Regions from separate parts of the Homo sapiens genome. Here region 2 is linked to region 1. Evidence: fine-mapped expression QTL. A gene starts in region 1. The other region holds a variant in brackets. All regions are shown on one strand. Distances are from middle to middle.

Region 1 (17,429 bases):
GGACTTCCTCATCTCCAATCCTGATCTAAGGGCTTATCTGGCTGCATCATCATCATCTCAGGCCTAACAGCTATACATACTGTACATACTCCGGACAGCTGACCTACAGTGAGGCAGGGGCACCTCAAATAGTAAATGTGTGGACAGTTCACAGACACCCAGGCAGCTCCTTACTGAAGGACAACGGCACAGAGAAGTTCTAAGAGAAATGGGATATGAAGCAACCTGATGCTTCTAAAACTTACATACTGCTTAAGATTTTTTTCCTATCCTGGAAACAAACCCAAATTTACTACAACTCAAAGTATCCTGGATAAACAAGCACAGATTTCAATGTCTTAAAGACGTAATTTCCCAAAGAACGGTCTGCAAATGTGGTAAAACCTCAGTTGAGGCTAATGATATGTTAGAAAATCACTAAAACTGGCCGGGCGCAGTGGCTCACGCCTGTAATCCCAGCACTTTGGGAGGCCAAGGCAGGTGGATCATGAGGTCAGGAGATCGAGACCATCCTGGCTAACACGGTGAAACCCCGTCTCTACTAAAAATATAAAAAATTAGCCGGGAGTGGTGGCGGGCACCTGCAGTCCCAGCTACTTGGGAGGCTGAGGCAAGAGAATGGCGTGAACCCAGGAGGCGGAGCTTGCAGTGAGCCAAGATCGCACCACTGCACTCCAGCCTGGGTGACAGAGTGAGACTCCATCTCAAAAATAAATAAATAAAATAGAAAATCACTAAAACTAACTTCCCTTCTCAAGACAAATTAACTCACATCCATCCCACCCAAACCTGGCTGCCCTGGGCCTCTGGACAGACCAGAAGACATTCATCATTTAAAGGAATTTAAGTGTGAAACCTAACCTACCAATGAACCGCTAGTTCAGAAGGTAAAAGAATTCATTTCTGGCCAGGCGCGGTGGCTCACGCCTGTGATCCCAGCACTCTGGGAGGCTGAGTCAGGTGGATCACTTGAGGTCAGGAGTTTGAGAGCAGCCTGACCAACATGGTGAAACCCCGTCTCTACTAACAACAAAAAAAATTAGCCGGCGTGGGGGTGCACACCTGTAGTCCCAGCTACTCAAGGGACTGAGGCACCAGAGTCACTTGAACCCGGGATGCAGAGGTTGCAGCGAGCCGAGATTGTGCCACTGCACTCCTGCCTGGTGACAGAGTGAAACTGTGTCTCAAAAAAAAAAAAAAAAAAAATGAGCTTTTAGTCTCCCTAAGATGGCAACCTAACAGAAACCATAAGAAACGGACCACCTAAATATACATCCTCGTGTAAAAAAAGGTGAGAAGATAACATGTTTCATTAAATAACAGGATTCTTGTATATACATATGGAAAAAGTGGTGGCAAAGGGCGATGTCCAGACAGAAAAATGGTCTACAACAGAAAAATAAACAAGCTATTAATACATCCTCCCTCCCCCACCCAAAAAACGACAAGTGCTCTTCTCCTGCACTTACCAGCACCTCTTCTGAGTCATGCCAAAAGCGCCAGAGAATCCAGAACCACATGAGTCCGCTGAAGAACTCGCTCTGGAACACCTGGGATCTGGTCAGCTGGGGGAACTGTCTATACCGGGGCTCAATGTGCACACCACCACCGGCACTGCAAGACAAAACAACATGGCAGACAGCGTGCTACATTCTCAAAGCGTTAAGTCATCCAAAACTCCTCTGAGTTACATCCTAGAACCAACGCTAATGTTTCTCATCTCCACTGAAATATAGACAGAAGTTCACAATCCCTTGAAATACTCACTTTTTACTAAGCTTGCTTCATGTGTAGCAGCAAAAACTGACCAAAACTGACAAGAGGCTAATTTTGGTTTTCAATTAGTGAAGATTCATTATTTTGCACTAGAAATTTGAATGTGTTGATTCTGGGGTGCTAGCCCCAAAGGTTTTAGTTAAGGGACTGTGAACTTGTTAGCAGGTCACTAACTTACTCAGAAAAATAAATTAATTTTGCTTTGTTTAGCTATCTATTTGAGGCAAATTATGTCCTCTGCCTATTACAATCTTTATTAAAAGACAACCATATGGGAGAGAGGACTCGCAAATCCTATTAAATATGCTAATGGCTCTGAACAAAGAACTTTAAACAGTAAGTTTGAATACGTGTTTCTTTTTTCTTCTTTTCATTCAGACACTTGACAAGTTGTGGCACAGAGTCCATAAGAGTTATAGTCAATTTATTCAGTTGGAGTATAAATATTATACGTTGCATCTAATTTAAATTATTTGCACCTACTGGGGCTATTCCTAAAACCTATTCATCAGCCATATATATGCTAATAAACAGAAGTGGATAAAAAATTTTTAAGAGAATTCCTATATAAAATATGTTTACCAATTTCATCTAGATAAGAATCAGCTTGTAAACCATATTCTCTTTTATGTAGCACAGAAATTCGTACCTGTAGGAAAAGTGCATTAAAATATCTTGTCTTCATAATGCACAGATTCGTGAACAGTAACAGGGCAGTGGTTCTTGATACATGTTAGCTAGGACTGTTTGTTTTCTTTGTTTGTTTGTTTGCGAGAGTCTCACTCTGTCACCCAGGCTGGAGTGCAATGGAACAATCTTGGCTCACTGCAACCTCCGCCTCCTGGGTTCAAGCGATCCTCCTGCCTCAGCCTCCCAAGTAGCTGGGACTACAGGTGTACGCCACCATGCCCAGCTAATTTTTGTTTTTTTTTTAGTAGAGACGGGGTTTCCCCGTGTTGGCCAGACTGGTCTCGAACTCCTGACCTTAGGTGATCCACCCACCTTGGCCTCCCAAAGTGCTGGGATTACAGGCGTGAGCCACGTGCCCGGCTGTTTTGTTTGTTTTTTTAAAGATAGGCTCTGTCGCCCAGGCTAGAGTGCAGTGGCGTGACCTTAGCTCAAGCGATCCTTCTGCTGACTGAGCACCTCCTGGGCTCAAGCAATCCTCCTGCCTCAGCCTCCCTCCCAAGTAGCTGGGATTACATACAAGTGTACACCCCCAGACCTGGCTAATTTTTATATTTTTTTTGTAGAGACAGGGTTTCCCTATGTTGCCAGGCTGGCAGACTGTTTTTATCCTCCCCCACTCTAAAAGATGACTGGTAGTTATTGAGTGTTTACCATGTGCCAGATACCACACTAAGCATTTTATAAGTTTTAATTCATTTAATTTTCATAATGTTATGATAAGGCCTGTAATTATTAATGATTTACCAGTGAGATGCTGTGTGATGGCAAAGCCTAAGCTGTTGCCTACAGACACACACCATTAACAATTTTCTCCTTTTATTAATCAAAGACATAACTTTTAACTAGAATTCCAACCAGCATGATAAAACCAATGTTACCATATTGAAATGATAAATTCCATTTTTTTTTCTAAATAGTCATCCAAAATTTAACACTTTTATTTGGAATGCTCTATTTAAGGTATTAATAACTAATTATGAATAAGGTGATTTTTAGTTTTTGCAGATGTGTGTATATATGTACTTTTTTAAGTATCATGTTTAAAAGGTCCTACCAAATATCGCCACTTTACAACTTGAATGACGTAGCATACTGTTTCCGTAATGTCCTCATATACCAATTATATTATTCATTCAGGATCTAGCTGTGCATATAGATATTACATTATGTAAATAAACCATGCAGGATCATTCAATATAGTATAACAAGAGCTTTTTTTTTTTTTTGAGACGGAGTCGCACTCTGTCACCCAGGCTGGAGTGCAGTGACACAATCTTGGCTCACTGCAACCTCTGCCTCCCAGTTCGAGCAATTCTCCTGCCTCAGCCTCCCGAGTAGCTGGGATTACAGGCATGTGCCACCATGCCCGGCTAATTTTTGTATTTTTAGTAGATACAGGGATTCGTTATGTTGGCCAGGCTGGTCTCGAACTCCTGACCTCAGGTGATCCGCCTGCCCTGACCTCCCAAAGTGCTGGGATTATAGGCGTGAGCCACACTGTGCCCGGCCAAGAGCCTTCTTCTTTGATAGCTTTTTGATACAATCTAGGTATAAGTGCCCAGCAGTAAAACTGATTAAAACAAGATTTGAAGGCCGGACACGGTGGCTTATGCCTGTAATCCCAGCATTTTGGGAGGCCGAGGCAGGCGGATCACCTGAGGTCGGGAGTTCGAGACCACCCTGACCAACGTGGAAAAACCTCGTCTCTACTAAAAATACAAAATTAGCTGGGCATGGTGGTACATGCATGTAATCCCAGCTACTCAGGAGGCTGAAGCAGGAGAATCACTTGAACCTGGGAGACAGAGGATGTGGTGAGCTGAGATCGTGCCATTGCACTCCAGCCTGGGCAACAAGAGCGAAATTCTGTATCAAAAAAACAAAAAAGATCTGAGTAATGCCGATGCCAGCATTATAGTTCAAACCCATCTTAGCAGCTCCCCACGCTTCGTTATTGCTAGAGTGACATGTTGTTTTAATCATAACCTGAAGTAGGGACTGCAAAATGGAAACCTTTTGGAACAAAGATTTGAAAGTCTGCAATTATATCACAGGAACAATGACAAGGATTGCCATGATTAAGGAATGCAAAGACTCAACACCTAATTCACAATGTTATGTTCCAAACCAGGTTGTGAACTGCATTGTGGCAAACTAGATACCCTGAACAACCCTCCAAATTAACAACTCTGCTGCTAGATGAGATTTTTAAGATTTTTACAAACATCACTGACCAGGCACAAAAGGAAGGAATCCACCAAGAGCAAAATTCAAGTAAAAACAAGGCCTGGAAGCTAAGCAATCAATCACTGAAGCTGCCTTCACCGGGAGCCCTTGAACCTCCACCAGGATAGCTACATGAGGTGTGGGGAAAGAGACGCAGCCTGGGGCCCACCCAAGGTGGGAAGGCTAATGACGAGGTCACTGAATAAAGCTGCAACCCCATATGGTAAAAGGGTGAACAAGAAATAAACCTTCCATGGACAAGGGAACAAGAATTTGTTATCAGAAGCCAGTCCTCAGGTAGATTTGCACCCAAATTCACATTACCTGCGTTGGACCTGTGTGGACCAAAAACCCCAAGCCGAGAATTTAATGTGAGCCTGAATTGGGGTGGCACCCTCAAGAGACTAAGAGAAGCACGATCTCAAAGAAATTCCAGGGAAAACAAGCTCAAGATCAAAAAACATAAGGAAGTAAGACACTATCAGCAAGTCCTGTAAGAAGGAAAGAGAATGGGGAAGAAACAACATCCAAGGAAATAATGGCTGTTCCAACTTCAAATGTTTGAGAGTCAAGTTTAAAAACAAAAATGCACCATAACTCTATTAGTTACATTTTTATTTTTATTTTTTTGAGACGGGGTCTCACTCTGTCACCCAGGCTGGAATGCAGTGGCACGATCTCGGCTCACTGCAACCTCTGCCTCCTGGGCTCAAGCAATTCTCCTGCCTCAGCCTCCCCAGTAGCTGGGATTACAGGCGCACACTACCATGCCCAGCTAATTTTTGTGTTTTTAGTAGAGATGGGGTTTCACCGTGTTGGCCAGGCTGGTCTCGAACTCCTGACCTCAGGTGATCCGCCCGCCTCAGCCTCTCAAAGTGCTGGGATTACAGGTGTGAGCCACCGCGCCTGGACAAAGTTACATTTTTAAAAAATAAATCAGACCACATTACTTTCCTGCTTTAAAACTCCAATGGCTCCCTGTGATTCTTAGAATAAAATTCCGAGTCCTCCAAAGCCCCCTCTAATCCGGCCCCCACACTTGTCCCTGTGACCTGGTCTCTCCCACTCTTCCCCTACGCTCCACTCCAGCCTGGCCTCCTGCCAACCCTGCGGGCTCTGGCCTCTCCACCTGATGCCTCCTCTGCCCTCTTATGTCCACCGGGCTCTTCCCTTGAGGTCTCTGCATGGCTGACTTCTCATCCCTCAGGTCCCGCTTCAAATCACACTCCCAGGCATTCCCACGCCATCCCCAAATACAATATCCCTTCTACTCCCACACCACGCATTCTCCATATTAATCCCCAGCTGTATTCTCTTCATAACCCTTAACAGTACTCAAAAAAGGTCTTTCTTTTCTACTGGTCTCTCCTCTCCAGAATGTACACTTCATTCTCTCTCGTATTCTGCTATATCCTCAGCACCTAGAAAGGAGCAGCCATATAGAAGATGCTCCATAAACATTTATGCACTTAATTATCACACACTCTGAAACAAGTGTGTGTTACGAACAAGCCAGCACCTCAGGGAAGATCGGCATTCCCCCATCTCCTCATGCAGGACCAAGGGCTGTCGCTCATGGCTCTCCATCACTGTCTTTGCCCAAGTCACACAGGGCTTTGCCTTCTGCCCACCCCACACCTGCCCCAGCTCCAGATTCTTCATCCATGTGGGACTTCAGGCAAGTCACTCCTTTCATTTCCTGGGCCTCAGTTCCTTAATAACAACAACAGTTAAAGAATACTTGTACGGTCCTTAGCAGGCACCAGCAATTGTTTTAAACACTTTAGTGAGACCAAGCGCAGTGGCTCGCCTGTATTCCCAACACTTTGGGAGGCCGAGGCTGGAGAATCACTTGAGCCCAGGAGTTAGAGGCTGCAGTGAGCTAGGATCGCGCCACTGCACTCCAGCCTGCCTGACAGAGTTAGACCCCATCTCCTAAAACACACAAACACGCTTTAGATAACAGTAACTCATTTAGTTCCTTGCAAATGGACGCCAAATGGGTGAGGAAACTGAGGCATTAAGAGAATAAGAAACTTTTCCAAGGTCCCACAGCTGGAGTGTGGCAGAGGTGGGATTTGAACCCAGCCACTGTGCGGCCAGAATCCCGCTTGGAATCACGACCCCACACTGCCTCTTGGTAAAGTGTAGCTGATGATCTAAGGGACCTGGAATCATCCATGACTCTTTTCCAGTCCTGCTCTTACGGAATCTCTGCACACCACTAACTCGGCTTCGGCAGCTGCTCCCTACCTCGCACCCGCTCCCTACCTCGCACCCCCAGCCCTCCGCCCTCCGGTCTGCGTCTCGGGCCACCTCGCGGGCGGCTCTGCCTGTCACTCTCCTAAACGCCACGGCTGCCCCAGCGTTGGCTTCCGGCTTTCTGCTCCTCTCACCCGACGGCGCTCTCTCTGGGCGACAGCCTCCACTCCCTGCAGCCAGAGTGATTTTTCAGCATTAAAAAGCGGCCACGTGACGTCTCCGATTAAAGGCTGCCGAACAGACTCTACCCTAAATTCCGCAGCCAGGCACCGGGACCCTGGACCGCGCCCTCCCTAGGCCTCACCGCCGCCGCCCCCCGCCTCGCTCCAGGAGCGTCCACACCCGCCGCGCACGCTGCTTCCTCCGCCTGGACCGCCCGCGCCGGCGCCGACTGGCTCAGCCCGCTCCGCATTCACGCGTGCGTCTCCCGAGGGCAGGCGGCCCCTACTACCATGACGGCCCTGCACACGGTGTCCCATCTGCCCAGCGAAGTCTCTCCCTCTCCCTCCGGCCAGCGGGGTCCCTCTCCTCGAGTCGCGGCTTCAGGAGACACGCGGACTACAGGTCCCAGCATGCCTCGGGACGCGGCCTCTTCAGGCGCCCCAGTCAAGGTGAGAGCGTCCCAGGGACCCGCGCTGTCCGCTACAGGCCGGCGAGGCCCCCATCCCCAGCCCCACACTCACTGACGGACTCCACCATCTCCAGCAGTCCGTGCGCAGCCGCTTCTGAAAAGGCGGCCTCCAACGCGAGCGAAAGACGCCAGCCGAGTCAGAGCGGACATACTCGCTCCCGTCCGCCCCGCGGTCCCCAGCCGCCTCGCCCCTGCCTACTTCGCTTCCCCGGCGCTCCGCCCGCGCCTCCCGTGACGTCACAGAGTCGCTCATCTCCAGGAGTGGGGGAGCCGGCAGCCGCTCCTGACCCAGATTAGCTGTGAGTCCTTCGGCTGCAGGAAACCTCTCTCCCGAGAGCAAAGCCCACGCATAACTTATGGTTGCTGAGCTGCCCCATGCCTTCTGAAACAGCTTGTTGGTTGCCCCTCTGATCCTGTAGGGCTCTCCCCGTGTTCTGCCCCTCCTAAAACTGAGTGGTGTATAATTCTTTTTTTTTTTTTTTTTTCTTTTTGAGACAAGGCCTTGCTCTGTCACCCAGGCTGGAGTGCAGTGACACCATCTCGGCTCACTGCAACCTCTGCCTCCCAGGCTCAAGCGATTCTCCTGCCTCAACTTCCCGAGTAGCTGGGATTACAGGCATTGTGCCAGGCTAAGTTCGTACGCAGCAATAGATAATGCCACAAATGGCTTGATTCGATCCACTGGCTTTAAGGCTGGGTTGGCATAGGCTCAGGGAAGAGACTGCCGTCTTTTTGTCCCTTTCCCGCCTCCACACTGTACCTGATGCGCACTGGCACGAGGGGCTGCGTGACCAGCTGGTGTTCTCCCTCCCAGCCATCTGGAGCCATCCCAACCCCTCTCTGCCTGCTTTGAATGTCCCCTCAAGACCTGGGAAGGAAAAAATAACATCACCTCCTTGAAAAAAACTGCACCAAAGGAATCTCTGTCCACCTAAACCATACTGCTCACTAAAAGACAGGAATGAGGAACTTTATCCTGGAGAAGGAAAGAATGGGAGAAACTAGTCCTGTAGTCAGGGCAGGACTCTCGGAGAGCGCAAGGGCTTGACTCCATTCGCTGCCTGGTGGTCTCTAAGACGAGCAACATAATCTATGAAGGTGCAGGGATAAACTGTGATTTTACCTAAAAAAAAAAAAAAAGAGAAATTAAGCTTTACAAATACCCCCCCTCCAGGCTGACCCCGGGCCCCTCCTAGTCAGCCAGACGGCCACATCAGCTCAGCTCTGAGAAGAAAGCCCGTGGTTGGGCCTGGCAGAGAGGGGCAGGTGGTGGTCACTGCAGGTCTGTCCCTGGGCGCTGCCATGGAGAAGAGGACACACTGGTTATATTAACTCTCTTCATATTCACCAAAATTAATGCCTGCAAGTGGACAGGCGCAGACACTGTGGCAGAGAAACTGTAGTTCCGGACTAGCGGGTGAACCCGGGGCCATGTTAAGGAAGTGGCCAAGCCGTTCTGCTCACGTCCCCGGTATGTCAGCCACTTTCATCAGTTTTGTTTTACCTTGTAATAAAAGTTACCAAGGAGTTAGCAAAATCTATTAAAAATTACCAAGAAGATAATTTGAAGTACAATGAAATTTGCCCTAAGTGTATATTATGCTGGCAGGTAGCACCTGCATGATATTTATACATAAAGAGTGTGTGTGTGTGTGTGTGTGTGTGCACATGCCACAGATCAGTAGGACTTGATGGCATTTTCTAACCTGAATATCAAAGTCTGGGAACTACCAGCAGTACCCATCTGACCAGGGAGTATAGCGGGTCAAGAAATGAGAAAAACAGGAAAACAAAATAAATTTATTCGTCCTCCTCCACATAACATTTTCCCTGAAGGAGAGTGTCCCTGGCACCTGGCCCAGCTTCCACAATGGAATGGATAGGCCCCTTCCCTCCTTTTACTCCCTAATTGGCCCAAAGCTTTTGAACAGACCCTCAAACCAAGCAGAGGAAGCCATGGTGTGCCTTCCACCACTGGAGGGTTACATTTGAAATTGGTGTCCCAATTTTAAAACGTCCCAGCTGCCATAGGAGAGGCTCTTGGGAGTGGCCTCCAGCTCTTGACAAGGGCCCACAGAGGCCACTGCCCCATCACGGGGGGCACACTGGGCCCGTGAGGAGGAAGGGCCTCGCTGCCTCCAGGATGTCCAGTTTGGGGTCCAGTGAGCGGCCAAGCCCCTCCAACACCATGATGGCAAACACAATGGAGGCAAAGTTGCTCTCAAGCTTTACCTGGAACAGAAAAACAGAACAGTTCATCTCAGAACATGCTGATACAGGGACGTGTGTTCTGGATAATCACCTTGCTGTCCACTCTCAGCCTCCCTCAGACCTGCCCACGGGATGTTTACCATCTACCTGACATTCTCTTCTCTACCGCGTCATCTCCCCAACCATCTCACCTACTCGCCCAGCCTCCCATCTACTGGACACACTAAGGAAAAATCTAGGGGTGCGGAATATACTTTTCTAGGTTTGTGTCCATGTGTGTATGAATGAATGACCAAATAAATCTTTCACACACATCCCAGAAACTATACATTTAAATACAGGTAATTCTTCGAAACCTACAGTAACCTTTATGTATGTATGTATTTATTTATTTATTTTAGAGACAGGGTCTCACTCTGTCACCTAGGCTGGAGTGCAATGGCAAGATCATAGCTCACTGCAGCCTTGAGCTCCTGGACTTCAGGGATCCTTCTGCCTCAGCCTCCTGAGACTGGGACTCTTTTTTGTAAACAGAGGGTCTTGCAATGTTGACGAGGCTGATCTCGAACTCCTGGCCCCAAGCAATCCTCCCACCTTGGCTGCCCCAAGTGCTGGGATTATAGGCAGGAGCCATGTCAGCTGGTCTACAATAGCCTTTTTAAGAGACAACACACAGGCCGGGCGTGGTGGCTCACTCCTGTAATCCCAGCCCTTTGGGAGACCGAGGCGGGCGGATCATGAGGTCAGGAGATCGAGACCATCCTGGCTGACACAGTGAAACCCTGCCTCTACTAAAAATACAAAAAATCAGCCGGGCATGGTGGCAGGCGCCTGTGGTCTCAGCTACTCGGGAGGCTGAGGCAGGAGAATGGCCTGAACTCGGGAGGCAGAGCTTGCAGTGAGCCAGGATGGCTCCACTGCACTCCAGCCTGGGCAACAGAGTGAAACTCCATCTCAAAAAAATAAAAAAAATCAGAGACAACACACAATTGACTGCTCAAACAGGGTACAGCTGTCCCTTCAGAGCCAGATTAGTAGTAATAGCAATTGACATGGATTCTTCAACTATTCTTCAAAAGTATCATCGTTATCCCCATTCTATAGAGAAAGAAGCTGTGGCTCAGAGAGGTTCAATGACTTGCTCAAGGCCACTGAGTGAGGAGGAATAGAGCCAGATGTAAACCTAGAAGAACAGGAATCTGCTTTTTAAGTGGACAGAAGGTCAAGAAATGGAAGGTTGAATCATGGGAAATATTCTTTGTTAGAAATTAAAGAGTATTTGTCTCCGTTAAGGGCTGGAAGGTTGTCGGGGTCAGGTGGATCCAGAAGCAGCAGCATGCTCCCAGGAGCAGCTTGTGGAGTTCCAGCCTGGCAGATTGGCCACACAGGCTCTGGTCCGGGTGGGAACCCAGGGCTCTAACACCTCTGGGAATGCTTTCATTCTGAAGCTGGGTGGGGGGTTCTTAGTGTGGATTAGATTCCTTTATCTCTGTGTTACTGTCAAATACTTTATTTAAAAAAATTAAGTGCTACCTGAATAGATATTTCTTCTAAGGAAGATATATTATACAAATGGCCAATTGGCATATGAAAAGATGTTCAACATCATGAATCAGTAGAGAAATGCAATCAAAACCACAATGAGACATCACCTCACACCCATTAGGATGGCCACTAAAAACAAAACAGAAAATGACAAGTGTTGGTGAGGATGAGAGAAACGACCCCTTGTGTACTGTTGGTGGGCATATAAAATGGTACAGCTCCTATGGAAGTTCCTCAAAAACTAAAAACATACCATATGATCCAGAAAACCTACTTTGGGGCATATGTTTAAAAACTGGAAAGCAAGAACACAATGTATAGACCTTACTGGCTACATTAAATGTTTTTAAAACTTTTCTAAAATTTGAAAGTAGGATCTTGAAAAGATATTTACACATTCATGTTCACTGCAGCATTATTCACTATAACCAAGAAGTGGAAGCAACCCACGTGAACATCAACAGCATCAACAGAATAACAGGCCAAGCGCGGTGGCTCACGCCTGTCATCGCAGCACTTCGGGAGGCCAAGGCAGGTGGATCACTTGAGGTCAGGAGTTCGAGACCAGCCTGGCCAACATGACGAAACCCTATCTCTTACTAAAAATACAAAAATTAGCTGGGCATGGTGGCACTTGCCTGTAATCCCAGTTACTTGGGAGGCTGAGGCACGAGAATTGCTTGAACCCAGGAAGCAGAGGTTGCAATGAGCCAAGCTTGCACCACTGCACTCCAGCCTCGGTGACACAGTGAGACCCTGTCTCAAAAGGAAATCCTGTCACATGTTACAACATGGATGAAACCTGGGGACATTATATTGAGTAAAACAAGCCAATCACAAAAGGACAGTATACTTTATAATTCCACTTATATGAAATATCAAGAGTAGCCAAAATCATGGAAACGTAAAACAGCATGGTGGTTCCCAGGGCCGGATGGAGAGGGGAATGGGGAGCTGGTCAATGGCTGTAGAGTTTCAGCTCTGCCAAATGAGAAAGACCTAGAGATCTGTTGCACAATGCTAACACTATGCATCTGGAGAGGGTTGGGGGGTTAAATTTTATGTGTTTTTCATCACAATGAAAAATTTGTAAATGTTTTCAAACTTAAGTGCCTAGTGAAGTGCTTGGAGTGCAGTAGCTGCCCTAGGCCCTCTGTCTCCTCTTCCATCCTGGGAACAGCAGCAGCAGCAGCAAACACTCAAGGCCCCTCACCCACCGTGCTGGAAACTGTGTGGGGAGCAGATGCTCAGAGTGAGCCACGGAGGCGGGAGGACCCAGCAGCAGGCGGGGGCTTGCCCACATGGCCACAGGTGAGCTGCTCGGCCTCTCGGCTTTGGTGCCTGCCTCTTGGAAGACTGAGGGGATAAATTGGTTACTAATAGATGTCATATAGTTAAGTAATGCAATGGAAAAGGCCATCTTCCAACGAGGTCCTCCCTTCTCCACCTTCAACACTGCTTGTCCCTGGCCAGCAGCCTTAGTTTAAAGAGTGCCGGAGACTAGGCTCCATGACAAGGCGACAGAGCCGGGGCACAGGCTAAGATGAACCATGAGGCCAGCTCCCTCTAATGGACTACAGCAGCCAGGCAGGGGCCACAGCAGTCCCGCTAGGGCCTCTGAAAGCACCAGGACACAAGGCATGACCCTCTAGAGCGGCCTCTGGACCCCAGGACTTCATTCCACCAGGAAAGAGCTAAGCATGACTTACATTAACACAAGCATCATGAAAGTGAACCAAGGAGGGAAAGACATGAAAAGCCAGAGGTAGGCTGTTTCTACATTTTTAAATACACTTTTCTACATTTAAATGTCACAGATACTTAGACTGCACTGACTTGACAGATAGACTAACAGCTACGAAGCACTTGTTGCAAATGGCTTGTTACTAAAAATGCTTTCAAAATATATAATAGGCCGGGCACAGTGGCTCACGCCTGTAATCCCAGCACTTTGGGAGGCCGAGAAGGGTGGATCACCTGAGGTCAGGAGTTCGAGATCAGCCTGGCCAACATGGTGAAATCCCGTCTCTACTAAAAATACAAAAATTAGCCAGGCGTGGTGGTGGGAGCCTGTAATCCCAGCTACTCAGGAGACTGAGGCAAGAGAATCACTGGAAGCCAGGAAGCAGAGGCTGCAGTCAGCCGAGATCGCGCCACTGCACTCCACCCTGGGCGACAGAGTGAGACTCTGTCTCAAAAAAAAGAAAAACAACAACAAAAAACAAGAACCATATAATAGAAGCGCCTCCCACCACCCTGTGTCCTCCCATTCCTCCCTGCCCCGTCCCACCTTCCCCAGAGACCTCCCCTCTGAATGGCCCTCACCTTGTGAGTCATCAGCAACTTAAAGACACTAGAGAGAAGGCTGGACACATGAAGCTGGAAAAACAAAATAAAGGCTAATGCAGACCACCGAGCCTTCCAGAACCGCTCATTTCCCACCACCCCCACACTCTCAGCCCCAGCATCCCACCCCACTCCCCCGCCAGGGCACACATACACCAGTCAGCACAAAAGGGACCATCTGACAAACTCTGAAAGGACTCCTCCAGCACAAGCCCAACTCCACCTCAAGACTCGGTCACAGAGGCCTTTGGAAGACAAGCCTTTGAGCCCCACCCACCCCATCCCTGAAGCAACCACAAAAATCACACCTGCCTATAATCCTAGCACTTTGGGAGGCCAAGGCGGGCGGATCACTTGAGGTCAGGAGTTCGAGACCAGCCTGGCCAACATGGTGAAACCCCATTTCTACTAGAAATATAAAAATTAGCCGGGTGTGGTGGCGGGTGCCTGTAATCCCAGCTACTCGGGAGGCTGAGGCAGGAGAATCGCTTGAATCCGGGAGGTGGAAGTTGCAGTGAGCCGAGACAGCATCACTACACTCCAACCTGGGTGATACAGCAAGACTCCATCTCAAAAAAATTTTTAAAAAATCACACCTGGATAGACTATCAGCAGGGCCAGCGTGCCAGTGGCCACTCCTTGTCTGACCCATTCCTGCTAATGTGGCCATGAACTTGGGGATAAAACAGTCACATTTGCTAGAACTGTGTATAAAATACAAAGCAGGCTCTGGCTTGGGTTTAAATAAGGGACATGCGCATTGGGCACATCATTTGGCTGCTTGGAGACCACAGTCCTCCCTCCCTGTATGCTTGGCTGTCCCCAAATGAACAGCGACCCCTGGATGAGGAAGGAGCTGCAGCCTCCTAAGTGGCACCGCACAAGGAGGCCCCCTTGAGCACAACGGACTTCACTGGGGCTCCTCATGCCTGGAAGATGTGGGGTGGTTCTTTTTCTGCTTTAAAACTCACACCCCTCATAAAGAGGTCTCCCTTAGACCCAGGATCTGCTCTGCCCCAGGCCAGGTATGGACTCCCCAGCCCCTGTTCCGCAAGTGACCTGCCCACCTTCTCCAGGGTGATGGTGTTCTTCCTGGCCTGGGTCACCAGCATGGCCATCTCGGTTTTGAACCCCTCCACGTCCCTGCACTCGCTGGCCCGGGCATGATGCAGGATCAGCTCAGCCACTCTCTGGCCCTGGAAAATGCAACGGAAAAGGGACTTGGAGTGGAGCTAGCATAAACCTGGATGCGGTGCCCAAGCGTCTTTCTCATCTCAGCAGCTCCACCCTGACTTTTCTGGCATCTTGCTTTTGGCTCTTCCTCCTCGGGCTGTGACCTTTTCCCTTTGCCCATACCTATAGGGAGGAATGCCCCCACCCCCGCTGCACTGCGCCTCAGTGCTTAACCTTGGCCCAGGGGACACTTTCAAACCAGCTGCAGGCCCCAGCTTTGGGTTTGCCCTCTCAGAGGCAGGGACTGCCCTGCATTTTGCTGTTTAAAAAAAAAAAATTTTTTTTTAAAAAGAGCCAGATGCAGTGGCTCACACATGTAATCCCAGCATTTTAGGAGGCCGAGGCAGGTGGATCACCTGAGATCAGGAGTTCAAGACCAGCCTGACCAACATGATGAAACCCCATCTCTACTAAAAATACAAAAATTAGCCGGGCATGGTGGTGGGTACCTGTAATCCCAGCTACCTGGGAGGCTGAGGCAGGAGAATCACTTGAACCCGGGAGGTAGAGGTTGCAGTGAGCTGAGATCGTACCACTGCACTCCAGCCCAGGGAACAGAGTGAGATTCCATCTCAAAAAAAAAAAATTAATTAATTAATTTTTAAAAAAAACAGTTCTCTTTTTCCCAGTGTTTTTCTTGCTGGAGAATTCTTTGCCAGCCGGCCAGAGGGCCTCCTCAGAGTCACCCACGACGTAGTGCTTTCAATTGACTCTGCAGAGGCCTTGCCGAATGCCTTTTCTCTAAATAATCATTCTCAACCACTGCAGACCCTCAGAATCACAGGGGAGGCTGCAAAAACTACTCATGTCCCCACATCGGACGTGCCAGCATGCTGTGCCCCACTTAGAGGCTGTGTTCTCTATGCTGTCGCATCTCACCAGCCTGCCACCTTGCAGCAGGTAGCACACACCAGGGGCAGCCATTATCTGGTCAAGAAGCCAGCATTCCTGCTGACCAGCTGGATGTTTGCTGGAGAAGGACCAGAAACTACTAACACGAAACAGCACTTGTTTCTTCCCACAGTCCCAAACCATCTGCCACTCAGAACTGGCCTGATTTGCACCCAGCACCTGCTAACAGAAAGCCCCTTAAGGGCAGCCTCGCCTCCTGTCCTCCTGCCTCCCTCCACTCGTTTCTGGCACACTGGCAAGTGTGAGCATTGACAAGAATGACCGGGCTAAGGAGACCTGTCCTGTTTCAAGACAGAGACATTCTGGCTGGGTGCAGTGGCTCACACCTGTAATCCCAGCACCTTGGGAGGCTGAGGCAGGTGGATCACCTGAGGTCAGAAGTTCAAGATCAGCCTGGCCAACATGGTGAAACCCCATCTCTACTAAAAATACAAAAAGTGGCCGGGCATGGTGGCATGTGCCTGTAATCCCTGCTACTCAGGAGGCGTGGCAGGAGAATTGCTTGAATCCAGGAGGTGAATGTTGCAGTGAGCTGAGATCACGCCAAGGCACTCCAGCCTGGGTGACAGAGCGAGACTCTGTCTCAAAAAAAAAAAAAAGACAGAGACAGAGGCATTCCCCAGAGTATAAAAGATTCACCCCCTGCCCAGCCTGTAGTCCTAGCTACTCAGGAGGCTGAGATGGGAGGATGGCTTGAGGCCAAGGCAGCCTGCGCAATATAGCAAAACCCATCTCCATTAATTTTTTGAAACTTTAAAAAAAAAAAAAAAAAACTAAGATCTCACTCTGTCACCCAGGCTGCAGTAGAGCAGTGCAATCCTAGCTCACCACAGCCCCAAACTCCTGAGCTCAAGTGATTCTCCCACCTCAGCCTCCCAAGTAGCTGGGACCACAGGCGCACACCACCAAGCCTGGCTTTTTCTTTTTTTTTTTTGAAATGGAGTCTCACTCTTTCACCCAGGCTGGAGTGAAGTGGCACAATCTCAGCTCACTGCGACCTATGCCCCCCAGGTTCAATGAATTCTCCTGCCTCAGCCTCCCAAGTAACTGGGATTACAGGTACACACCACCATGCCTGGCTAATTTTATATTTTTAGTAGAGACAGGATTTCACCGTGTTGGCCAGGCTGGTCTCGAACCCCTGACCTCAGGTGATCCACCCGCCTTGGCCTCCCAAAGTGCTGAGATTACAGGCGTGAACCACTGTGCCTGGCCTATTTTCTTATTTTTTATAGAGACAGGGTCTCACTATGTTGCTCAGGCTGGCCTTGAACTCCTGGGCTCAAGCAATCCTCCCCGCTCAGGCTTCCAAAGTGCTGGGATTACAGGTCTGAGCCACCATGCTTCACCAGCTCTTTTAATTAAAAAAAATTCACCCCAACTTCTGTGGTCCCAGTGCGTCTCACCTGCCCCATCACCACAGCCATGAAAACTGCCCGGAAATTCCTCAGGTCAGGGGCCTGCAGCTCCGCCACAATGCCAGCATCCAGCAGCACCAGTCGCAGCGGGCAGAGGGAAGATGGCACGGCCACCACCAGAGTGTCACAGATGTCCGCCTGCTGCAGCTGCGCCTCCTGACTCGAGGACAGGCCGTTGG
Region 2 (11,602 bases), 110 kb before region 1:
AAGAAAAAAAGAATGCCTTCTTTAGAAAGATTTCTATGGTAACATAGGATAGGATACATTGGATGTGGTTTAAAACTAAAGATCGGTCACCAGTCAGGAAATTTTGGCATTAGTATAGGCGGAAGACGAATGGCACAGGGAAAAGTGAGCTTTCACTTAAGTTTATTATTTCTGAAAGGTTACAACCAGTTCTCATTGTTCGTAGTAGTTATGGTCTATAAATTCACTACAAACAATTAGTGAACACTGAACCTTGCTCCTAGGGGAAGTACAAGGATTATTATTATTTAAATGAGCCAAAAAACCCCTCTGTATATTGGCCTCTAGGTTGTTTCTTCCATTACAACAGGTTGAGACCTATTGGCTTAAAAGTGTGCTTGCACCAAACTAAATTTTTTGTACATCTAATTGTTTTAAATATAATCCTGATAAGCAGATTTTTAGCCACTGAGAGCCTGCCTACTTTGCAGTCCCCACAAAACTGCTTTGTACTCAACATCTATTAGGTATAAATAAGATCAAATCCCAAGGCTATAAAGATTCCAAGCTGCTGTTGCCCTTTGGAGCTCTTTGATACATAGACTCCCTGCTGGGTTGTCTAACATTGTCAGCTAGACATATAAGCTCCCTCTCCTACTCCCCTCTCCCCTGAGAGTCCCCTAGCCCTCCTCTTCTGGGTGATAGCCACTCCACCTCAGCTTCTGGCCAGTCCTGTTTGGGTAGTGGCCACTCTGCCTTAGCCTCTGGACAGTATGCTTTAAGGACATCCTCTGCCTGCAGATCTGTCAATGTCACCCAATAAAGCTATGCATGCTACTGCCACCTCGTGGTCATATCTTTTTCCTTGATCAGACCCCAGATCCTTCACATTTAAAATACAGTTAGGTTCCTACCAGCCTCTAGTCACATTTTCATCAGTCAGTCGATACGTAACCTTGTTTTGTGTGTGTTTCTGTTTAAAGACATATTGTTGATTCATTAACATTGAACTCACGGCTGACATTACTATAACTCATGCCTGAAGGAAGCTGGCCTAACACATGTACTTACTCTGCCAGGGACATTATAGCCTTCTTATGCTTACCAGCCCTAAACAGCACGTGAGCACTATGCTTAGGGATTATTTTAAACAGAAGAATCATCAACAAGAAGCACAAAAGTGAGAAAAAAGTGGCACCAAATAGGCTCTGCCCAGGATACTTGTTTATAGTATGAAAATTGAAACAAGAAGGCAAGAGAAAGCTTCACTGTTCAACCTCAGTTGGAGAGGTGCATGCATTAGGCGACTCAAATATCTCATTGCTCTGCGCATGTCTATGAAAGCACTAAGAGTATTGACTTTAGAGTTACAAATAAATTTTAGCAAGTAGAGAGATTTCAAGTATGGACTCCACAAGTAATGAGGATCAACTGTACCATCCAGTCTCTTTAATACTTCCAGTGATGAGCCCAGTCTCTCATGACAAACTTTTACCTTGCTGGGTAGGTAAAAGTTCAGGGTTTTTCTTTGTTTGTTTGTGACAGTATCTCGCTCTGTCACCCAGGCTGGAATGCAGTGGTACGATTTTGGCTTGCCGCAACCTCTGCCTTCTGGGTTCAAGTGATTATCGTGCCTCAGCCACCTGAGTAGCTGGGATTATAGGCGCCCGCCGCTCTGCCCGGCTACTTTTTGTGTTTTTTAGTAGAGATGGGGTTTCACCATGTTGGCTAAGCTGGTCTCGAACTCCTGACCTCAAATGATCCACCCACCTTGGCCTCCCAAAGTGTTGGGATTACAGGTGTTAGCCACTGCACCCAACCTGGATAGTTTTAATGGTTATATTGCACTACCCTCTGCGTCCTGTTATTTCTGGTCATAGATCCTAATTAGGCTTTCTGGACTCTTTCCCCCTTCAATATATTATTTGAATTCAGCTGTCTTATATTTACCTTTACCCCCTTTTTTTCCCCTCTAGCATAAATATTCCCAATTTCTTTGGAAACTTTTGGTTTGCTAAGCACCTCAATTTAAATGAATGGAACTTATTGTTACAAACTAACATTTCCCCTTCTTCTTACACCTCCCAATAAAAACTGTGTCCTCTGTATTCACACTGCCTCACTGTAGTCTACACCTTCAGTTCCAAGTAACTCAGATTTGCCTGTGGGGGATGAGGCAAGGAAAAGGCTAAAGATAGATAACTTTAAATATACAGAGAGATTACTTTTTTTTTCCCTTTCCCTTTCCCTCCTTCTCTGTCTCTCTCTTCCCATGTCATCTTTGCTGCTTCGTATGTTAGCTTCATTCTATAACAGATTTTCTCAGTGTGGTGGAGAATATGGCCATTGAGGGCTCCAGATTTGTATCTTCTGCAAATCTACAGAACTACAGTAGAAACAAGGACTTTTCTCTGTCAGTGTCCATGTGTCAATTTAGGGAAGAACTCAGGTACTGTTTGGGTCATATATATAGCCCTGGACCAGTTGCTCTTGCCGGGGGTATGGGAAACTGATTAGCCAGCTTCTGTCATCTGTAGTGACATAAAAGTAGTGACCCTTGATAGCTTTTCTAGTACCATGTGGATTTCTAGAGAAGGGAATATTCCCAGAGGAAACAGGGGCACCAAACAACAAATATCAAGTATACATGTTAAGACAGGTTTTTTTCTTCCCGCTATGTTTAGGGCCAGTAAGAGGTCTCTTAAGGACAGTCAGTGTGATTGAAGGGTTATACAGTTTTCAGCTTTGAACAGTATTGGATCAAAATTGATTTTGCTTTTAATATTGACATCTATTATTGCTCAGTGATGGATATACTGCGTTGGTGGGTATATTGTAGCAGATACTGTTACTTCTTCTTTTTATATGTTTAAAGTATTTCATAATTTTAATAAAATAGAAAATTAACTTTGCTTTGATTTAAGTTGGTGAATAATAACAAATATTTGGGTTATAATTTCCCTTTAGTATTAAGTTAGCTGTAGAAATGGTGTTGTATCTGACCTAGTAACCCATTTGACTTTTTAAAGATGAATTACTAAATTTTTTTAATGATATGAAAAAATGTAATTTGCTCCCTTTACCTCTTATCAATATATTTATGATACCATAGGTACCTGCAAGGTGTGGAGTTACAGTCCGAGACAGTCTAAAGAAAGCACTGATGATGAGAGGTCTAATCCCAGAGTGCTGTGCTGTTTACAGAATTCAGGATGGGTATGGTTTGTATGTGACGTGAAATTTTGTTTAAAAAGAAAATCACACATTAAACTTTGAAGTTTTCTTAGGATCTTTACCAAAACCTAGGGAATTGAAAGTGTACTTTAGGAAAAAGTATTAAAATAATACTAAGTTAGCCTGAAGAAATACTGTAGGCCATATGAGGAGTTAAATAATTGTATATGACTGTAGGGTTTGTTACTTTGATCAAATGATTTTATTTGGAATTTGAGATTCTTACAATTTTTGAACCATTCAGAGTGTGATTTATTTGGATAATAGACTCTTACCCCCCTCCCATTTTTAATACAAACTCATAGTTTCACAAAAGGTATATCAAAATTAACATTTTATATTGACCTACTTTTCTTTCAGAAAGTGTCTAACATTGTTCCAAGACCCTCACATTTTGAATCCTCTTTAAAAAAAAAAAAATTATTTTGGGGGCATGTTGTCCCTGTCCCTTGAGTACTCTTTTTCCTTGAATGGATAGATAAGTCCGTACCTGTGATTTTTTTTTTTTTTTTTTTTTTTTTTGGACCCCAGGAACAATCCATTTTCTGCTGTTGTAGGTCTTTTCTGGAGCTGACTTGAAGAAAAGAGTACATCTCTTTACCCTGCTGTTTGTCCAAGAGTGATACATTTATTTGGGGTAAACTTAAAATTAATTTATTGCCATTTAAATTTCTAACGATGGAATATTAGGGAGCCAAACCTCCCTCACTGTTACTAGCCCCTCGATAACCAATTTTCATATCTTCAGCATGAGGTATATGAATATTTTTAGGTGTAATAACCAAGAAAGGCTTGTGTCTACATTTTTCAGAGAGAAGAAACCAATTGGTTGGGACACTGATATTTCCTGGCTTACTGGAGAAGAATTGCATGTGGAAGTGTTGGAGAATGTTCCACTTACAACACACAACTTTGTATGTATCTTTACATTTTTTTTTGAAATGTCAAAAATGTTTAGATTTTAATGAATGAATTTTTATTTAGGGAATGTGAAATATGGATGAGTAATTTTGGAACTGACATTTTACCTGAGTTGAAATCAGTTGTTTTCTTTAAAAACTTGTATTTAAACAAGAGTTTAATTTTAATCTTTATACTTTCTTTTTAATTTAAAAAAGTAAAATGTATGCATTGTTAAAAGATAATTTTGAATAGTGCAGAAGTATGTCAAGTAAAAAAAGTGAAAATACCCTCCTAGAGGCCAACATTTGTTTAGATTAACAGATTATTGTTCTGTCTTCCAAACTTTTTTCTGTGTACACAAACGTGTGCTTGTACCTGTAAGCCTAAAGTTTTTTCCTTTCTTTTTTTCTCTCTTTCCTTCATTACTTTCTTTTCTTTTCCCTTTCTTAAATCAAAGTAGAGCCATGCTATGTGATATTCTTTGCCTTATTTTTTTTTAATTCAACAGGATGTCACGGACATCTTTTCATGTCAGTATACCTGGCTTTATTTTAGTATGACTATGTAATAATTCGTAAGAATAGGAATTCATTATATTTAACCATTTCTCTATTGATAGACATTTAAGTTTTTGTATTATAAAAAATCTGTTACATACAGGGCTAAACAAGGTCTTTCTGCATATATCTTGACACACTTGTACACACCCTTGTGTTTCTGAAGGATAGGTTAATGGAAATAGAATGGCTGGATATTAAACTCTCCATGAGGCTTTTTTCTTTGTCTGGTTTTTGCATTTGCTAGAACCTAGCATAAGCCTAAGGGTCACCAGCATAAGGCCCGGAATGTGGGACCTTTCCACCTTAGAGATGAGGATCTACATAGAACTTGAGAACTTATCCCCTAAAATGGCAGGCAGAAGCCAAAAGTTGTCTCTGAATCAGGAATACATTTCTTACTTTTCTCTATGTATGGAATTTTGGCCAGAGTTTTTTCTAGGTGGATAATTACTGCTACCCTTTAGGCGTCAAGTGTTTTCCCATGTGTCTTGGTGATTAATCCAGCTGGGCTCTTAAAGCAGATGATTGATTAGATTATTTCCTTTGGGGTTTATGCTTTCAAGCCTCCATTAGTAGTGAATAATGAAATCATGTTTGTGTTTCTGTAAGGCATTTTTTGGGAGAAGTGTAAGATACACCTAATGTCAATCAAATTTTACTGTGCAGCAAATAATTTTTTAACATGTTGAATTTTAAGTGGATAAATCTTAACATTTTTATTTAAGTTCTTAAGAATACAAATACAGTTGAGCATACATTTCATAGTGATTACTACTCTGTTTCTTAATAATTCTTCTTAGCTAGAAATTGAATATGAGGAGATAAAAGAAAGACCTAAGTTGCTAAGTGTGAGAAAATAGTATTAAAATGATGCCTCAGGAAGGTCCTTGCCACAGAAGGATTGTGAAAGCAAACTGCAGATTGATTCCAGAGTATGGAAATTGTCACCACTCAGTTGGATACCTGCCAGTAAATTTTTATTGAGAACTTTCCATTTGCCAATACCATATCTTACCTAGGGATATGACAAATGAATAAGACAGTGTCACTGCCATAGAGTAGAGAGAAGATTTAATAAATTTTCATAAACATTCATAATTACTATATATGTATAAAGTTCTATAGATGCACAGAGATTCCTAACCTGGCTTTTGAGGAGTTAGGAAGGTTTCTCAGAGACAGAAATATCTAAGCTTAGGCCTGATGGATGAGGAAGTAAGTATCAAGTAAAGAGTACCCTAAACAGAGGGAAGAGCAAGAAAGCATGTTACCTTTCAAAGTTTTGAAAGAAGTTCAGAATGGATGATACAAGGTTGAAGAGTAGGTTGTTAACAGTATTGTGGGTAGAATAAGAGTTGTGGGTAGAATAAGCAGAGTCCAGCTCATGAAAATCCTTGTTAGCCATATTAAAGATTTGGATTTTTCTGTAAAATAATTAGAAATGTAATAGTTGTAAGCTTGGGGAGAAATGTGATTAGATTTGTGTGTTAGAATGATTGCTCTGAGTGCCATATAGAGGCAAGATCAAAAACCTATGTTCTGCTTAGAAAGGAAAAGTGTTCTTGGCTGTCTTGGGTTTTGCTTGGCTATTCAAGGAGGGCTGCTTATGCCTCATGGTTTCATATTATAAAAGCAATCCCTTCAGTATTTCTCTATATCCCAAGAGTCCTTGGGAACTGGGAAGTGGGAAAACAAGATTTGAAACTTTTATATCCAAACCTTCTCCTTTTTCTGCAGACACTCAGTGTCTTCCTTCACACAGCCCCACACCTTACAAATTAATGCATGCAAATTACCTTGACTGTGCCTCTCACTAATTTGCCATACATATTTATGTATACTCAGATACTAGATTAAGTGTAAGCTGTGACCCAAAAGAAAGATATATCTTCCTGTGCTCATCTTTATTGACAAAGGTATACTTACAGATACAGGCATATATTGCTTAAAATTTATGATCAAATGCATATCCACATGTTTTCTTTCCTTCAGCTGTTTTGGTCACCTACCTACTTGGTTTGGTGAATAATGGCCACATAAAAAATTTTAAAGATTTTAAAATTTCTTGTATATCCAGAGACAAATGGAAAAAGAACACAATTAGAAATAGACATTTACCTGTTTTATATCCCCTAGAAAGTGATACATAGGAAAAAAGGTGAAGAAAATAAGAGTCACTTTTAAAACTAAATGTCCTCAAAAAGCCAGAATGTATTATATATCAGGATGTAATTTTCTTGAAATATTTTCAATAACTTTCTATTCTTAATGGAACAGAATGTGTAAATAAATGTGTATTGAAAATGGACTTTTGGCTGGGCACAGTGGCTCATGCCTCTAATCCCTTGAGAGGCCGAGGCAGGCAGATCACTTGAGCCCAAGAGTTCAAGACCAGCCTGGGTAACATGACAAAACCTCATCTCTCCAAAAAAATACAAAAAGTAGGTGGGCATGGTGGTGTGCACCAATAGCCTTGGCTATTCAGCCTGAGGTGGGAGGATAACTTGAGCCTGGGAGGCAGACTTTGCAGTGAGTCATGATTGTGCCACCATACTCCAGCCTGGGCAACAGAGCAAGACCCTATCAAAAAAAAAAGAAAAGAAAAAGAAAAGTAGACTTTTGATGTTGAAATCTATTTAATGTATCATAAAAAAATTTACATGTAGCAGAATAGATTAGGAAGTTCTAATTCATGTTGTATATAGTCAGGGTAAGTAGTGTTGTATGAATACAGTTATATATGGAGTCATAATGTAAAATATCATTATTTGTGATTAAAACTCTGAAAAACTGGGCACAGTGGCTCACGCCTGTAATCCCAGCACTTTGGGAGGCTAAGGTGGGCAGCTCACGAGGTCAGGAGTTCAAGACCAGCCTGGCCAGCCTGGTAAAATCCTGTCTCATTTGAAAATCTTGTGAGTTGTAACTGGTTTTATACAAAATATTGAAGAGTGGAAATTGTATAATTACAATCATGTAATTAAAAGTATTAACC[ACC/C]CCCCCCAAAAAAAAAACCTGTCTCTACTAAAAATACAAAAATTAGCCAGGTGTGATGGTGTGCGCCTATAGTCCTAGCTGCTCGGGAGGCTGAGGCAGGAAAATCGCTTGAATCCAGGAGGTGGAGGTTGTAGTGAGCCGAGATCGTGCCACTGCACTCCGGCCTGGGTGACAGTGAGACTCTGTCTCAAAAAAAAAATCTCTGAAAAACTGAAATGAATTAAGAATATAGAGGCCGAGTGTGGTGGCTCATGTCTGTAACACTCTGGGAAGACGAGGCAGGCGGATCACTTGAGGTCAGGAGTTTGAGACCAGCCTGGCCAACATGGTGAAACTCCATCTCCACCAAAAAATACAAACGTTAGCTAGGCATGGTGGTGCATGCCTGTAGTCCCCAGCTACTTGGGAGGCTGAGGCAGGAGAATCACTTGAAACCAGGAGGCAGAGGTTGCAGTGGGCCGAGATCCTGCCACTGTACTCCAACCTGGGCGACAGAGCGAGACTCCATCTCAAGAATACAGAGCAAAGAACAAATAATGAAATAGAAGTCACCCATGCTCTCGCCACTCTGAAGTAGCCACTCACATTTTGATATTTATTCTTATATTTTCTTATTATTATATACACTAAATAAATATATTTTAAGCAATTTCTGGCTTTAGTGGGATAGATTCTTCCTAGTGCAGTTCTGTTACGTGACTCATGTTCTACATCATTTGCCTTTGACATGGAATTCTTAACATGTTGCCTTCTAAGTTTCACCTAGAGAAGTGTTCACAAATAAGTTTATGTGGCCCAAACATTCTAATCCTCTAAGAAATTGATCATTTGTTAGAAAAAATAGATCTTATTGTCTTTTAGGTGATTTTTCTGTTTCTTATTTTTTTTAGTAAGATTAGGAAGAGCTGTTTCAATTTTCATATGATTACTTACTAGTTTTATAAATAATTGTTTTTACATTTTTATCCAAAGTTAACCATTATGTTTTTGGACCATAGATCAGGGGTTCTGATTCTGTCAGCTATTTTGTTTTTGTTTTTGTTTTAGCTATTATGTAGATTGTATTTATAGTCTCTCTCCCTCCCACCCCCAATTCCACTCTGGAGGAATTCACTGTTAATTTTTAATGGTTTCTGTTTTAAGCTCTTTTGGTGATTATTTTCATCTTACTAAATACAGTTACACATTGCCTGATGACTGGGATATGTTCTGAGAAATGCATCAATGGTGATTTTGTTATGTGCTTACACAAGCCTACATGGTATAGCCTAACTATACAACTAGGCTATATGGTAGAGCCTATTGCTTCTAAGCTAATAACCTGCACGGAATGTTACTGAACTGAATGCTGTAGGTAACCTTAACACAGTGGCAAGTTTGTGTATCTAAACGTAGAAAAGGTACAGTAAAAATACAGTATAAAAGATCAAAAATGGTCTACCTGTGTAGGATACCTAATATGAACAGAGCTTTTAGGACTGGAAATTGCTCTGGTGAGTGAGTGGTGAGTGAATGTGAAGGCGTAGGACATTACTATTTGTTACTGTAGACTTTTATGATAAACATTGTACACTTAGGCTACAGTACAGTTTTAAAATTTTTCTTTTTAAAAAGTTTATAAAGTAAAAAATTTACATTAAACTAAGGTTTAATTTTTTTTAACTTTTTGACTCTTGAAATAACAGTTTCAAAAGTTTAAAAACATTATATAGCTATACAAAAATATTTTATGTGCTTATTCTATAAACTTCTATTTTAAAAATTTTTAATTTTTCTTTTTTACTTTTTAAACTTTTCTGTTAAAAATGAAGACACAAGCTGCACACGGTGGCTCATGTTTGTAATCCCAGCACTTGAGGAGGCCTAGGCAGACGCATCACCTGAGGTCAGGAGTTCAAGACCAGCCTGGTCAACATGGTGAAACCCTTCCTCTAATAAAAAATAGGAAAATTAGCCAGGCCTAGTGGCATGTGCCTGTGGTCCCAGCTGCTCGGGAGGCTGAAGCAGGAGAATCACTTGAACCAGGAGGTGGAGGTTGCAGTGAGCCGAGATCGTGCCACAGCACTCCAGCCTGGGCGACAGAGCCAGACTCTGTCTCAAAAAAAAAAAAAAAAAAAAAAAGACACAAACATACACATTAGCCTAGGTCTACACAAGGTCAGGATCTTCAAGGTATCACTAGGCAATAGGAATTATTCAACTCCTTTATAATCTTATGGGACCACTGTGGTATGAAGTCCATGATTAACTGAAGTGTCATTATGTGACACATGACTGCAATTATCTTTTAGCCACAATTTCTTGCTTTATTAACTTTAGATATCATATACTGATTACTGATTGTATAAGGAATTAGCTCATTTATAGTTCTTCCTCTCCCTCCTCTCCCCCAATATTTTTATTAGTAGTTTTTTGGTTCTTCTATTGGGTGCCTTTGTAACTTTAATATATGCCTTTCTTGTTCCGTCAACACCAGTCGGCATTTCTTAACCTCCCTTCTTTGTATGATAATTAAAGTATAGGCTTCTTCCTTTCACCTCTGTTTCCTCCTCCTTTTCATGTCTACTTTTACTTTTATGTTGTCAAGCTTGAAATCAGTTGCCAGCCTTTTACTCATTTCTCATTTTTTAACTTCTGGGTTTTTAAGTTAGATAGTGGGGTGGGAAATAAATATGTGTAGTCCATCTATTATCTTGAACCCCCGGTTTTCATTTTATAATAGTACTTTAGTATGTGAGTTTCATGATATAAATATATTACAACTTTGTTATTTTAAACAAGAGAGTAGATACGTCAGTTTCTAGAAAGTTTTCTTGTGAGTTTTTGAAATCTCTGTGATTTTTTACTTTGCAGGTACGAAAAACGTTTTTCACCTTAGCATTTTGTGACTTTTGTCGAAAGCTGCTTTTCCAGGGTTTCCGCTGTCAAACATGTGGTTATAAATTTCACCAGCGTTGTAGTACAGAAGTTCCACTGATGTGTGTTAATTATGACCAACTTGAGTAAGTAATCCAAAAATATCTCTTTTCTACCTACCATTTTACACTTAAATTTTCTTAATGTGAAGCTACGATGTCTAAAAGTCTGTGAGGGTTTTTCTTCCATACGATTGTTATAGAGAATTTTTTTTAAGTGTAGTTAGAGAATAATATGTGGAATGGACAGTATTTCTCTCCCAAATTGTAATGCTGGTTCAGCTATACAGTTAATTTATATTTTATATTATCGTTTAATTAATCAAGACCCCTAACCCATAGAAACCATTTTTGGATAGTTTCTAGGAGGAGAGGGAGAGTTGTTTCAATTAAATTAAGCATTATGATTTTGTACCACAGATCAGGTAGTCTGATTCTGTTAGCTATTTTGTAAATTACGTTTATATTCTTCCTCTCTCTCCTTCATCCCCATTCAGCTCCCTTCCCCCAATTTATTTGAGTAAGATGTAAAATTTTTGTATCCAGTATATATCTCTTTCTAAAATTTCTCTTTGCTGTATGCCAGTTTTTCTAATAGATTAGACTGAGTCTATTATCTCTTTTTGTGTCATTGGTGCTGCTGCTGTTAAAGTCTTACTTTTCTTGATCACCTGAGCAAATAAAACTTAACTCTGTACTTTAAGTAAATTATAATGTCACCTAATTTACAGTAGATACTTTTTATTCTCATTCTTTAACCATAAAGCATGATTTTCATCTTGTAGTATGTAGAAATTTGCTGAACTGAATGATTAGTTTTAAGTTATAAGCATGCCTTTGAAAGTGCAATACAATTTTTTTTAAAATAAGCCTTTAGACAAAAATACAACTAATTGAATTTTAACAGTTGTTTCTGAGAATGGAATTTGATCTCAGTTTTTTTGGTTAACTATGTATTTTGGTATATGAAGCTTCTGGGTTTTGCACAAGTTAGGTTTGTTTTGTTTTGCCTCA

Direction of the effects. Alleles are on the strand shown, and positions count from the first base shown. SD is a standard deviation of normalised expression in the study named.
In carriers of allele ACC in region 2, the expression in esophagus mucosa of the gene that starts at base 7,772 in region 1 tends to be higher than with C alone (moderate effect, 0.68 SD a copy in GTEx).

What was found. PIP is the estimated chance that this variant, and not a neighbour inherited with it, causes the effect.
Region 2: its variant is the best candidate, but not a certain one, in a credible set for the expression of NDUFB2 in esophagus mucosa (GTEx, PIP 0.70).

What each region holds. Positions count from the first base shown.
Region 1 is chr7:140,687,051-140,704,479 of GRCh38, reverse strand. It overlaps NDUFB2 (NADH:ubiquinone oxidoreductase subunit B2), which reads right to left and starts at 7,772. Exons shown (of 4, transcript NM_004546.3): 1 at 7,638-7,772; 2 at 1,470-1,614. The coding sequence starts at 7,735. It overlaps ADCK2 (aarF domain containing kinase 2), which reads right to left. Exons shown (of 8, transcript NM_052853.4): 5 at 17,239-17,429; 6 at 14,755-14,883; 7 at 13,667-13,720; 8 at 9,370-9,817. The coding sequence ends at 9,677. NDUFB2-AS1 (NDUFB2 antisense RNA 1) reads left to right here and starts at 7,403. Exons shown (of 2, transcript NR_024454.1): 1 at 7,403-7,565; 2 at 7,660-9,144. RefSeq lists enhancers at 7,454-7,763, 14,317-14,817.
Region 2 is chr7:140,800,485-140,812,086 of GRCh38, reverse strand. BRAF (B-Raf proto-oncogene, serine/threonine kinase) reads left to right here. Exons shown (of 18, transcript NM_004333.6): 4 at 3,092-3,195; 5 at 4,025-4,127; 6 at 10,527-10,675. Among named protein-coding and RNA genes, the nearest start is that of NDUFB2-AS1, 110 kb to the right of the region's middle. The variant ACC/C (reference allele first, on the strand shown) is at 7,672.